Linked DNA regions of Homo sapiens: all the other regions are linked to region 2. The links come from fine-mapping of genetic effects on gene expression. A gene starts in region 2. Each other region holds a variant in brackets. All regions are shown on one strand. Distances are from middle to middle. Region 1 has its middle 34 kb from the start of NHLRC1. Region 2 holds the start of KIF13A (kinesin family member 13A). Region 3 overlaps KIF13A (kinesin family member 13A).

The links.
Region 1: its variant is fine-mapped to the expression of KIF13A in thyroid (GTEx, PIP above 0.99).
Region 3: its variant is fine-mapped to the expression of KIF13A in whole blood (TOPMed, PIP above 0.99). The same link has a PIP of 0.9 or more in blood mononuclear cells.

What each region holds. Positions count from the first base shown.
Region 1 is chr6:18,086,133-18,090,371 of GRCh38, forward strand. No RefSeq gene overlaps it. Among named protein-coding and RNA genes, the nearest start is that of NHLRC1, 34 kb to the right of the region's middle. RefSeq lists an enhancer at 3,006-3,723. The variant G/T (reference allele first, on the strand shown) is at 2,600.
Region 2 is chr6:17,985,025-17,989,263 of GRCh38, forward strand. KIF13A (kinesin family member 13A) reads right to left here and starts at 2,611. Exons shown (of 39, transcript NM_022113.6): 1 at 2,385-2,611; 2 at 2,030-2,120. The coding sequence starts at 2,439. RefSeq lists silencers at 2,197-2,316, 2,687-3,186.
Region 3 is chr6:17,952,058-17,956,296 of GRCh38, forward strand. All of the region lies in intron 2 of KIF13A (kinesin family member 13A), which reads right to left. It also overlaps the pseudogene RPS12P12. Among named protein-coding and RNA genes, the nearest start is that of KIF13A, 33 kb to the right of the region's middle. The variant G/A (reference allele first, on the strand shown) is at 2,176.

The sequences.
Region 1 (4,239 bases), 100 kb after region 2:
CGTATCTGGCATATTGCCAAATTGTTATGCCTATATCCAACTGCAGCAATATTGCCAGCTTTCCAACTTCAGATCAAAACTTTCAGAGAAAGAAAGCTGTAAATAACAGGATATTAAAATGAAATTCTCTATGGCTTGATTTCAAGCAAGCTCCCTAAAGCTGAGAACAATGCAGTAGTACCAAGTATCTCTCAGATGATACAGGCAGATGCTGGTCTAGCCATGCAGGGCACGTTAAGAGGAAAAAAAAAAAGACCGGTATGGTGACTCATGGCTGTAATACCAGCACTTTAAGAGGCTGAGGTGGGAGGATAGCATGAGCTCAGGAGTTCAAGTCCAGCCTGGGCAACATAGTGAAACACCATCTTTACAAATAATAAAACAATTAACTAGGCATGATGGTGCGTGCTGTGGTTCCAGCTACTTGGGAGGCTGAGGTAGGAGAATGACTTAAGCCCAGTGTTGGAGGCAAGGGTCAGGGGGTTGAGGCTGCAGTGAGCCAAGATCATACCACTGCACTCCAGCAGACAAAGCAACAGAGCAAGACCTAGCATCAAAAAAATTTTTTTATTAAAAAAAATTGGCTGGGCGCAGTGGTTCACACCTGTAATCCCAACCCTTTGAGAGCCCAAAGTGGGTGGATCCCTTGAGCCCAGGAGTTCGAGACCAGCCTGGAAAACATGGTGAGACCCTGTCTCTACAAAAAATAAACAAAAATTAGCTGAGTGTGGTGGCATGCGCCTGTGGTCCCAGCTACATGGGAGACTGAGGCAGGAGGATTACCTGAGTCTAGGAGGTTGAGGCTGCAGTGAGCCAATATCACACCACTGCACTCCAGCCTGAGTGAAAGAGCGAGACCCTATCTCAAAATGAAAAAAGAAAGAAAGAGAGAGAGAGTGAGAGAGAATCAGAAACCAGTCATGCCTACATTAGCCTATCACAGACACCTACTTTTTCAAGATGGAATTTTGATAATCAGTAGTAGAGGGAGGATCTTTGTGAGAATTTTCAGTGTGCTGGGTATCCCACTCCCACAGGTGGGAAAAGGATGCACTTCAAAGGAAGTTTCTAGAGAACCACTTGTGGGGACTGGTGTCCCACTCTTGCCAAGTGAGAGGTGGCTGGGACTGCTTCTGCCTCGCAGTGAAGACAGAATGCCTCAAAGGCCCGTTGCATTTCCACTGCATTTTACTAGGACCTGGATATGAAGGCAGCTGGCCTGGAATTTGCTTAAACATGACTTTTCCCAAGACACCTGCCTCGAGGGACAGTGCCGCCCAGGCAGACGGGTGGACACAGGAAGCCAAGGGGTCAAGAGAAATCAGGAAAGGCATAATTTCTCCATCAAAGAGTAAGTGGGCAACTCTCTGGAAAGCCTGAGAAAGCTCACCAAGAGAGCAGGCATCTGCCATCCGGAGGGTACAAGCAGCAGGACCCCAGCCATCCAGCTGAGTCAAGCTGTGCCCTTTCCCTGAATCCCCTCTTCCCAGGACCCAACCCTGCAGGGGTTACAAACAGCAGCTATAAAGTGGGAAGCAAGAGGATTGGGAAAAGAGAAAAGAAACTGATGATACTCTCAATTCTGCCTGCCAGTGTGGCCAGGTCCAAAGTGGAGAAGGGAAGAAATCTTAATTGGATAAAGATTTGGAGTTAATTGGAGTTCTGATTTTTATCCTGGACTGGATTGGAATTATATGATTATGAAACAGACTTTATTTGTTAATACCCAAACAAGGGGCTTTTCATTTATTTTCCAGGGATGACTGGAAAAGCCATGGAATGTGCTCATGATCCTATCCTGGGGCAAGGAAGAATTAGACCATGGAGTGATTTGAAGAGGCCATGGAAGAAAAAAAATAAAGTTATTTTATGCTTATAAGCCCAGCTAAGTCCAGCTCATTCAATGAAATGATTGTAAGCATTTATGGAAAGAAGAAAGGGAGAGGTCCTCCTGCCAGGAACCCGCCTCTAGCCACAGAGGATAGCGATCACTAAAGATAAGGGTTTTCCCAGTGAAGAGCTTTGGAAATGTTTCCCTTGACTAGAAATGATACTGACCCCAAGGTTCAGGCCCACCAGAGAACAGTGGGAACAATAGTTTATCTCCTTGAGTAATGAGAAGGATTCCAGTTTTCAGGTGAGCTGGGCCTCTTTCCAGGTTGTCCAGAGCCTTTTAAGTCTAAAGCCCACATCAGTGTTTTCAAAAGTGTTTCCACAAAGCATGACACCCACAGATTATGAATAGGCATTACCAAGGAAAACAGGGTTCCATGGTTTAAAAGTTTGAACAATGTGGGCTGGGAGTGATGGTTCATGCCTGTAATCCTAGCACTTTAGGAAGGCAACATGGGAGGATCAGTTGAGCTAAGGAGTTCAAGACCAGCCTGGGCAACATAGTTAGACCTTGTCTCTTTAAAAGAAAAAAAAAATTAAGTTTGAAAAATGCTGTTAAATAAAACTAAACAGTTGTCTTTCCTGCAGGACTTATCAGAGCCTCAGCATGCTAAGGTATATTGGTCATGCTTCTATAATAATTGTTCATTTCCTGCAGCTTGTTTTGCTACAGGACACTTTAGTTTGTTCCTAGGAATGCTCTGGA[G/T]TGGTTGGAAGTGCACTTCACTCCCCGTGCAATGCCCTCCTCCTGCTTCTGTCAGCATCAGTGACTACAGCCTTTAGTGTTCTCAGGTGTATTTCTGAAACCATTCCCCGTGATCTCTAACTCCAGGGAAGGTTGTCGAGTTATTTGAGTGCTCCTCTTGACTGCCAATTCTACTCAGCTTCAGATAAAGAAGAAAACCCTCTTTGCCTTCTCCTCTGGAGAGGGTATTGGAAATTTACTATACATTGAAAATTTCTCCAAGGTATGTCACTTCCCCCAGCCTCTTCTACCATAACTCTTTTGTACCCGGGGGGTGGACTAATACCAGTTTTTAGATCTCTCTGTGTACCCTGCAGTGGTGGCTGTAGCAGGTGATTTTGGTGCCCTGCCCTGTGGTCCTCATGGCTGTTCACCCTTCTGACTCTGGGATTCCAGTGTTTGTTCTATGCAGTAAATCAATTGTTGTGATAAATGAATCCCATTTTATTCACACTCGACCTTTGTTATGTAATGTATGTTTAATGAAAATGAGTGTGGGTAGTTATAAAAATAATAATTACTATTTATTGAGTGATTAATATGTGCCAGTCATCTGCCACAAGCATTCTCTCAGTAATTAAAAATAGGTATTAATGCTTCCACACTACAGACAAGGAAAGTGAGGCTTAGGAGACTTAAATAACTCACGAGAAGGCACACACTGAGTGGATGTCTAGATCCAGCTGCCTATTCTCATATGCACTGTTCCAGTCTCACCAGAGCATCACAGTGTATCAGACTCTCATTGTCTGAGGTATACCCAAAGTTCTTTGTCCCACTGAGAGGTGAAGCCAGCTAGATTTCCTGGGTCGAGTGGGGACTTGGAGAACTTTTCTGTCTAGCTAAAGGATTGTAAATGCACCAATCAGCACTCTGTAAAAACACACCAATCAGTGCTCTGTGTCTAGCTAAAGGATTGTAAACGCACCAATCAGCACTCTGTAAAAACACACCAGTCAGTGCTCTGTGTGTAGCTAAAGGATTGTAAACGCACCAATCAGCACTCTGTAAAATGGACCAGTCTGCACTCTGTAAAATGGACCAATCAGCACTCTGTAAAATGGACCAATAAGCAGGACATGGGTGGGACCAAATAAGGGACTAAAAGCTGGCCACTCCAGCCAGCCACGGCAACCTACTCGGGTACCCTTCTATGCTGTGGAAGCTTTGTTTTTCTGCTCTTCACAATAAATCTTGCTGCTGCTCACTCTTTGGGTCTGCACTACCTTTAAGAGCTGTTAACACTTGCCGCGAAGGTCCACGGCTTCATTCTTGAAGTCAGCGAGACCACCAACCCACTGGAAGGAAGAAACTCTGGACACACCATCTTTAAGAGCTGTAACACTCTCTGCGAAGGTCCACGGCTTCATTCTTGAAGCTGGTGAGACCAAGAACCCACTGCAAGGAATAAATTCCGGATACACCACGACCAAGAAAATTAAGGAGCGCAGACACCAAGGGTGAAGTTGGAGCATGAGTTTAATGAGCAAAAGAAGAAAACTCTCTGCCATGGAGAGGGGACCTGAAAGAGGGTTGGTGTTTTTACAGTTGAATGTTAAAGCTTTTATAAGAAACTGATGAGGGCTGGGTGTCTCATTTGC
Region 2 (4,239 bases):
ATGCATTTGGTGTCTTCATCTGTGCAAAGACAGTAATCCTAATGTACAAGGAGCACTGTTTTGTTGACTACTCAGTTTGTCTGTAAATGAAATGACCGGTACTCAAGACAGAATCCCACAGAAAGCTCATCTGCTATTCAAAGAATTAGATCCGTCAGAAGGACAAAACACGAGAGTACCCATATTTCAATGCTATTTTTATAACTCCAGATAAGGGACTATCGTAAGTAAGCAGATGAATAGATCCCAAAATCACCCTTCAAATCTTTACCTAAAAGATCCTGATTAGTAACTAACGTGGTTCAGCCCGAAAAATGATCAACTGATTACTTAGCATTTGGAACCAACTGTCCACAGTTATAGATTGTACCAAATCCCACAAAATCAAATCTGTTTCTCTTCACAAATGACAACACTTCATGTCATTAAACAGTAGCTAACAGTCGCACTGCTTATGGTTAAGAGTGACAAGGAGCAGGTGCCAAGCCAGCAAGGAAAACAAGTAACGGCTACACAACAGGAGCTAAAAAGTATTCTACCTGTTCCCCCAGACTGCTTTCAAGAATCTGACCCAACAGAATTTTTTCCCGAAACAATATGCAGTTTGCGGGGGGGTGGGGGGAGGGGACATTCGTTGGTGATATGGGCATCTAATTTAATCTGTAAATATTTAATGTACTCAATGAGTTTACTTACTATCACCATGAAATATGCTATACTATCTACACTGCTATAAATGCATCTAAAAATACATCCATTACTAGACAACATTCAGTACAATGTACAATAAACACTACATTCAGTGTTAAACACAACATTTTACATATAGCTTAGCTATTTAATATCACCACCAGAATCTGCTAAAGGTAGCAGAATGTTTGCAAACTGGATAAAAACTGCTATGCTCAACACGAAAAGCAAAGAATCCCCAATCTTATCGCCTCATGATTTCTTTCCCCAAATTTGGCAAAACTGAGCTTGAACACCACACATTATAGAATGGAGGCATTGCTTCTCTAAGCAATAATGTCACAAACCCTGCTTCAGAGTCTCTCTTCAGTGAAAATCTCTGAAGAAGGAAATTCACTAAATTGTATTCCATCGATCAACAGGTGATTCGTGGAAACACAAACTCATATTCATTTCCAATGAAAATTAATATTGTAAACTCTCCCGTTTTTTCACATATATATATTTACAAGCTACTGCATTATTATATTGAATGAATTCCAACCGATTTCTTCTCAGAGGCTTACTAGAAAAATGCCAAATATTCAAATTATTTTGGGGCGTTAACCCATACTGTTGCATGGAACAGAACGGAATTAATAAGGATCCAACAGTTACCACTTTTCAAATGCAAATATGTTGCCATCTAGTAAATACAGCCCCTTTTTAAACATCCCTCAGTGTCTATACAGTTCAGGGCCCTACTTTTGTTTCTTTGAAAATCAAAATTCGCGCATTACATTGAGGCATTATCTCAACTCAGCAACAACAACTAAAATAGATACTAACTAGTCCAGCCTGAGTCTACATCGTACAAGACTTTTGCTTTATTTTTTCCTCCCATTTTAGACACACTGTCCCTAAACAATTCTGCCAAAGGAAACAAACCCTGCAGTGATGAAAAGAATCACGGACACTGGGTTCCACGAACAATAAGGTCGTGGGCTGGTCACCTGCCCGCCTCGGGCCTCAGTTTTCCTGTCTGTAAAATGTGGCCGCTGGACGAATCACCTATGGGGTCCCATCCGGCCCTCTCCCTCCCGGGTGCCTCGCAGCCCGCCCGGGCTCAGCTGACTGGTGCTGTGGCCAGGGTGCCCTGCCTGCCGCCGCTCTAGATGGAGGAGAAGGGGGGCGAGGGAGGAGAGGAACTTGGACTTGCAACAGCTTCAAACAGGAGCCGGCGACAAACTTGAAGCCGTCCTCCTAACAATAGGAAAGAGCACTCCCATTTTCCTGGCTCAAACTTGCGGGACCCCGCGAGGCTGGATCCTCCCAGCCGCCCTCTCGGAACCCGCTTTACCTTTCTCCCTGTTTGGTGTTAGAAGGAGGAGGGTGCAGGACCGTTTGATTCCCTTCCATCTCCACCACGCACTTGGTGTTCAGTTCCAGTTCTGAAAGCAGAGAGAAAGGGACGTTGCAAAGTCCAGCATCCGCGCCTCCAGCCCGCCCGCCCGCCAGCCGCGCCGAGCGGGGCTCCGTCCCTGGAGGCGGCCGAGCCTGGAGACGGCGCCCCGGGCACCACGGCCAGCGCGGACGCCGCCTCCGCCCCGGCCCCCCGGCCCCGGCCGCGCTCTCGCCGTCCCGGCCCCGCAGTTTCTAAAGTTGCCCCCGCCCTCAGCCCGAGCAGAAATAAAAAAGAGCGGAAAGCTCCTCACCTCGTCGGTTCATGGGCCGGACCCGGACGGCAACTTTTACCTTGGTATCCGACATGTTGGCTGCGCTCGCCCGGCCGCTCGCCGCGCCCGCTCGGCCTTAGGCGGCCCCTCACGCGCGGCGCCGCCGCCGCTGCAGCCGCGCGCCCCTCGAGCGCGGCCGCCGCCGCTCCGCCGTGAGCTCCGAGAGGCAGCGCCGAGGCGCGCGGGCCATCCCGGGGGAGCGCGACGCGGGGCACGGCCGCGGCCCGGGGAGGGGCGGGCGCGCGGGGCGGGGCGCGGCGGCGGCGGCGGCGGCGGCGGGCGGGGAGGAGGCCTCGCCGGCGGGCCCAGGCGCAGCTCTAGCCGCGCCGCCCCAGCCGAGACCGCAGCGCCGCGGCCCCTCGCGGCTGCCCGGGGCCCCGCGCCGCCATGTTCCGCGCCCGTCACCCGCCGGGGCTCGGGAGAGGCCGGACACGGCCACGCGCGGCGCCCCCTGGAGCGGCGGGACGGCAGTGAGAGGAGCGGCGAGCAGCGCGGCGCTTAGGGGAGGCTGGAGTCCGGGGCGGGACGCATTGTTTCCCCAGGGGACCTCCCAGGCCAAGCCTGCACCGGCGCCCGCGGGGCCCCCCCCCGGACACCGCCGTGAGCTCGAGCCGCCTTCTGGGGCCGCTGCCACCCGGAGCCCCGGGACGGCAGCAAGGACCACGGCTCGCCGCGCTGGGTGCGCAGGCCTTCCCCTCCGAGTCCCGGCACGCCGCCCCCTCTGTCCCACACGGAGCCTGCAGCGGTATTTTAAGATCTCTGTGGTGAACCGAGACTAGAAATGAATCTGTGAATCCACCACCGAAACAGTGTATGTTTGTAAATAGTGCTCTCCCTTCCTTTCCCGGCCTCTCTTGTCTCGGGAGGGATGTCAAGTGGGCTGGGAGGGCCATTAACTCTTACATAAGAATTTAATAGCAATGGATTCTGTCATCCTGCCAAATGCAGACCTCGCTGCCAGGGCGGAACTGGGCGAATCCGATTTATTCTGTTTGGTTCAACAAGTGCTTAAGGGGCGCTCACCGAGTGCCAGGCATTTTGAAGCGTACAGAAGTCAAAAATCCAGAGTTTAGATCCAGGAATCTTTCGATTTTGCTTAAATCTAGAAATCCACTTATTGGAAGATGCATTGAGGTTTTACTGTGTGCAGGGTGCTGTTGAGGACACACAGAAACATGAATAGCATGATGCAGAGGCACACGCTAAGGTGGAAGAGAGGGCGTGGAGACTTATTATGCTAGACAGTGTACGGCAGGTGCTAGGAGAGGGGTCCGTCCGCCTCCAACCGAGGTGATGCTACGCTTGACCCTCGAACAACACGGGTTTGAACTGCACGAGTCCACTTACACGTGGCTTTTTTTCAACCAAAATCTGATTGAAAATACAGTATTCGTGCTCTGGCACAGTGCCTTACGCCTGTAATCCCAACACTTTGGGAGGCCGAGGCGGGAGGATCACTTGAGGCCAGGAGTTCGAGACCAGCCTGGGCAATGTAAAGAAACCCCATCTTGCCAAACATAAAAATTTAAAAAATAGCCGGGCATGGTGGCAGGTGCCTGTAGTCTTAGTTACTGGAGAGGCTGAGGTGGGAGGATCACTTGAGCCTGGAAGGTTGAGGCTGCAGTGAGCCATGTTCGCACCACTGCACTCCAGCCTAGGCAACAAAGCAAGACCCTGTCTCAAAAAAAAAAAGGGAGAAAAAAGAAAAGACAGTATTTGGCAGGTTCAAAACTGAGAGATCCAACTTTTCCTATTTGTGGGTTCTGCAGAGCTGACTGTGGGACTTGAGTATGCATGGTTTTGGATGTTCCTGGAACCAGTCCCCTGTGTACAC
Region 3 (4,239 bases), 33 kb before region 2:
CTTTGGGAGGCCGAGGTGGGCAGATCATGAGGTCAGGAGATGGAGACCATGCTGGTTAACATGGTGAAACCCCGTCTCTACTAAAAATACAAAAAAATTAGCCAGGTATGGTGGCAGGCTTCTGTAGTCCCAGCTACTCGGGAGGCTGAGGCAGGAAGATGGCATGAACCCGGAAGGCAGAGCTTGCCATGAGCCGAGATAGCGCCACTGCACTCCAGCCTGGGTGACAGAGCGAGACTCCGTCTCAAAAAAAAAAAAAAAAAGAAAATATAATTTATATTAAGAAAATAATTGGCCAGGTGTGGTGGCTCATGCCTGTAAACCCAACACTGCGGGTGGCTGGGGTTGGGGGATCGCTTGAGGCCAGGAGTTTGAGACCAGGCTGGGCAACATGGCAAGATTCTGCCTCTACAAAAAATTTAAAAATTAGCAAGGCTTAGTAGTGTGCTCGCATCTGTGGTCTTAGCTACTCAGGAGGCTGAGGTCGGAGGATCCCTTGAGCCCAGGAGTTTGAGGCTACAGTGAGCTATGACCACACCACTCACTGCACTCCAGTCTGGGTGACAGGGAGAGACTCTGTAAGAAAAGAAAAGCCGGGCGTGGTGGCTCATGCCTGTAATCCCAGCACTTTGGGAGGCTGAGGCAGGCAGATCACGAGGTCAGGAGATTGAGACCATCCTGGCTAACACGGTGAAACACTGTCTCTACTAAAAATACAAAAAATTAGCCAGGTGTGGTGGTGGGCGCCTGTAGCCCCAGCTACTCAGGAGGCTGAGGCAGGAGAGTGGCGCGAACCCGGGAGGCAGAGCTTGCAGTGAGCCGAGATAGCGCCACTGCACTCCAGCCTGGGCGACAGAGCAAGACTGTCTCCAAAAAAAAAAAAAGAGAAGCGAAGCGAAGAGGGGAAGAGAGGAAGAGGAGAAGAAGAGAGGACCGGAGGGGAGAGATGGTTAACAGGGGTATAACAGGAATATATTAATGATGCTTTCTGGAGCACTGTTTACAGTGAAAAATTGGAAACACTCTAAATGTCCATCATTAGGGGATTAAGCAAAGAAATTATCATTCATCCATATAATATAATATAGCAATTAAAAAGAACGAGGTAGACACCCATCTATTAACATGGAAAGGAAGGCATTATTCTGTTAAGTTAAAAAAGCAGGTTAGAGAACAGTTCATATAGATGATATTATTTATGCAAAACATATGCATACATACATATACACGGGTACCTGAACACACACCCATATTCTCTCTTTCTCAAAGAATACACTCCAAACTTTTAGGAATGATTACTCTTAGACAGTAAAAGGGAAGAAAGGAGATTTTTTATTATTTCTCCTCTCTTAACCAGGAAGAAAAGCAGGGGAAAAAAAAAATCTTTAAAGCCCCAGATGTCATGTAATGGAAATTACAGAAATTCCTTGGGTTCTTTCTCTGCCTCCACCAAGTTCAGAGGCAGAGGCTTGGGTGCGCTGAAGATTCCCTATCACCAGTAAACCACCGGCATGGCCGAAGAAGGCACTGCTGCTGCTGGTGTCATGGATGTTAATACTGCTTTACATGAGGATGGCCTAGCACGTGGAATTCACAAAGCTGGCAACTTTAGACAAGCACCGAGCCCATCTTTGTGTGTTTGCACCCAACTACGATGAGCCTGTGTATATCAAGTTGGTGCAGGCCCTTTGCGCTGAATACCAAATCAACCTAATTAAGGCTGATGACGACAGGAGACTAGGGGAATAGGTAGGCTTCTGTAAAACTGACAAAGGAAAAACTCTGTAAAGTGGCTGGTTGCAATTGTGCAGTTGTGCTGTAGGACTATGGCAAAGAATCTCAGGTCAAGGATGTCACTGAAGAGTACTTCAAATGCAAGAAATGAACAAATAAAAAATTTTGCTCACATTCCTCAAAAAAAATTTTTTTTTCTTCGAAACAGATTTAAAACAATCCGATCGGTTGGGTGCGGTGGCTCACACCTGTAATCCCAGCACTTTGGGAGGCCGAGGCAGGCAGATCACGAGGTCAGGAGATGGAGACCATCCTGGCTATCACGGTGAAACCCTGTCCCTGCTAAAAATACCAAAAAAATTAGCCAGGTGTGGTGGCGGGCACCTGTAGTCCCAGCTACTCCGAAGGCTGAGGCAGGAGAATGGCGTGAACCTGGGAGGC[G/A]GGCTTGCTTGCAATGAGCCAAGGTGGCACCACTGCACTCCAGCCTGGGCAACAGAGCGAGACTCCATCTCAAAAAAAAAAAAAAAAAAAATCAGATCAGCATTTTTCTAACATCTAATAAACTCATATAGCTCAAGGACCACATCTTCCCCCTTTTAGGGAGTAGGTGATTGAAGGTTTTCACAAATCCCCTCATCCCTTAGACTAGCTGCTCAATAAATAACAGCTGACTAAATAAGCTACCAGTGTTACATTTTAAGTATAATACACAGCATAATTTAAAATATAATATTAGGCTTCTCTGGAAAAATTTTTCTTAGTTTTCATATTAATAACCTGATTTTACATTCTTTTCAATATTATATCTTCCTTTATAAGACATTTTCACAACCCAAAACTAAATTGTCTATTACATGCATTTTTACAAGGATTTTTTGTTATTGTTTATATTGTTGTTAGAGACAGGATCTCACTCTTCTTGACCAGGCTGGAGTGCAGTGTTGCGACCATAGCTCACTGTAGCCTCAAACTCATAGGCTCAAGGGATCCTCCCTCCTTAGCCTCCTGAGTAGCTGGGACCACAGGCACACAGCATCACACCTGGCTAATTAAGAAAAAAAATTTTTTTAAGAGACGGGGTCTTGCTATGTTGTCCAAGCTGGTCTCAAACTCCTGGCCTCAAGTAACCCTTCCACCTTGGCCTCCTAAAGCACTGGCATTACAGGTGTGTGCCACCACACCAGGCTCATTTAAAAAAACTTTTTTTGTAGAGATGGAATATCTCTCTACAAAAAATGCTGGTGCCCAGGTTGGTCTTGAATTCATGGGCTCAAGCGATCCTCCTGCCGCCACCTCCCAAAGTGCTGAGATTACAGATGTGAGCCACGGCACCTGGCCTACAAGTATTACTATACATGTCTTTACATTCAGAATCACTGAATATGAGAATTGATCTGGTCTAATCTCCTTGATGTACAAACGGACACTAGTTTCCACAGGTGTTAAAGTTACTCCAGATCCTTCTATTAGTAGCGAAGCCAGGACTAGAACCAAGAACCTGGGTTTCTACCTGTTTTGATTTAAATATAACAATAACAATAACAAACTCTATTCTACCAATTCAACACCCACTCTGCCTTCTTTCATTTGTGAAGTGCTCCCTTGAGTAACTGATAGGGCAAAGCTTCATGTAGACTTTTGCCACTTCACACCAATTTGGATATCTGACCAAACAAATTACCTATACAATAAGTAAAATCTTCCCTATAATTTCCACAAATATATTTGAAGAAGTGATTTTCTTGTGCCCATAAGACAATGTGCATTCACTATATTGGATGTAATACAAAAAGTAGCCATTTCTGGGTTTAAATTTGTCTTATTTAAGAACAGCAGTGCAACTAATCTTAATGATTTGGTTGTTTGGATGAGATAATATTGAAGACAAAGTCATGGTTTACTAAAGCAAAGAAACTGTATGCTAAGTCTATAAGATGGCAATTTCCTATTTTCTGTGACTCCTTTCAGAGTCTCAGGATAAGGCTGCACCAATTCAGTGTAGTTTGTTTCCATGCATTAACCTCTACAGGTAATTCATGCCAATTTGTGTTCACACATCTACATTTTTGCCTAAATACATGCAAATTTATGCATCCCATCAACCACTGTCTTTTATATTTAAAGATGATGACACTAATAGTGACTGTTATTCTTGTATACAGGTTTTCCTGAAAAGACTGCCATATTTTCCAGATCTTAAGCACAATTTTTAAAAAGTCTATTAACATTGCTTTAAATCTACAGTCAAGCATTTTGAGTGTGAACAGCAAGCAAAGCAACGGACTTAGGTTCACAGTGCCAGGCTCCGTTCTAAGGACTCATCAAGTGGTAGCTCATTTAACCTTACATCCGTAAGATGCAGGTATTATCATCCTCATTTACAAATGAGGAAGTTGAGGCATGGAGAGGACAGGTAACTCATCCAGGATCACACAGTAATAAGTGAAAAGGCTAGGATTTACTTTCAATCTGGCTCCAGAGTCTGTGCCTTTAACTACTGCTCTG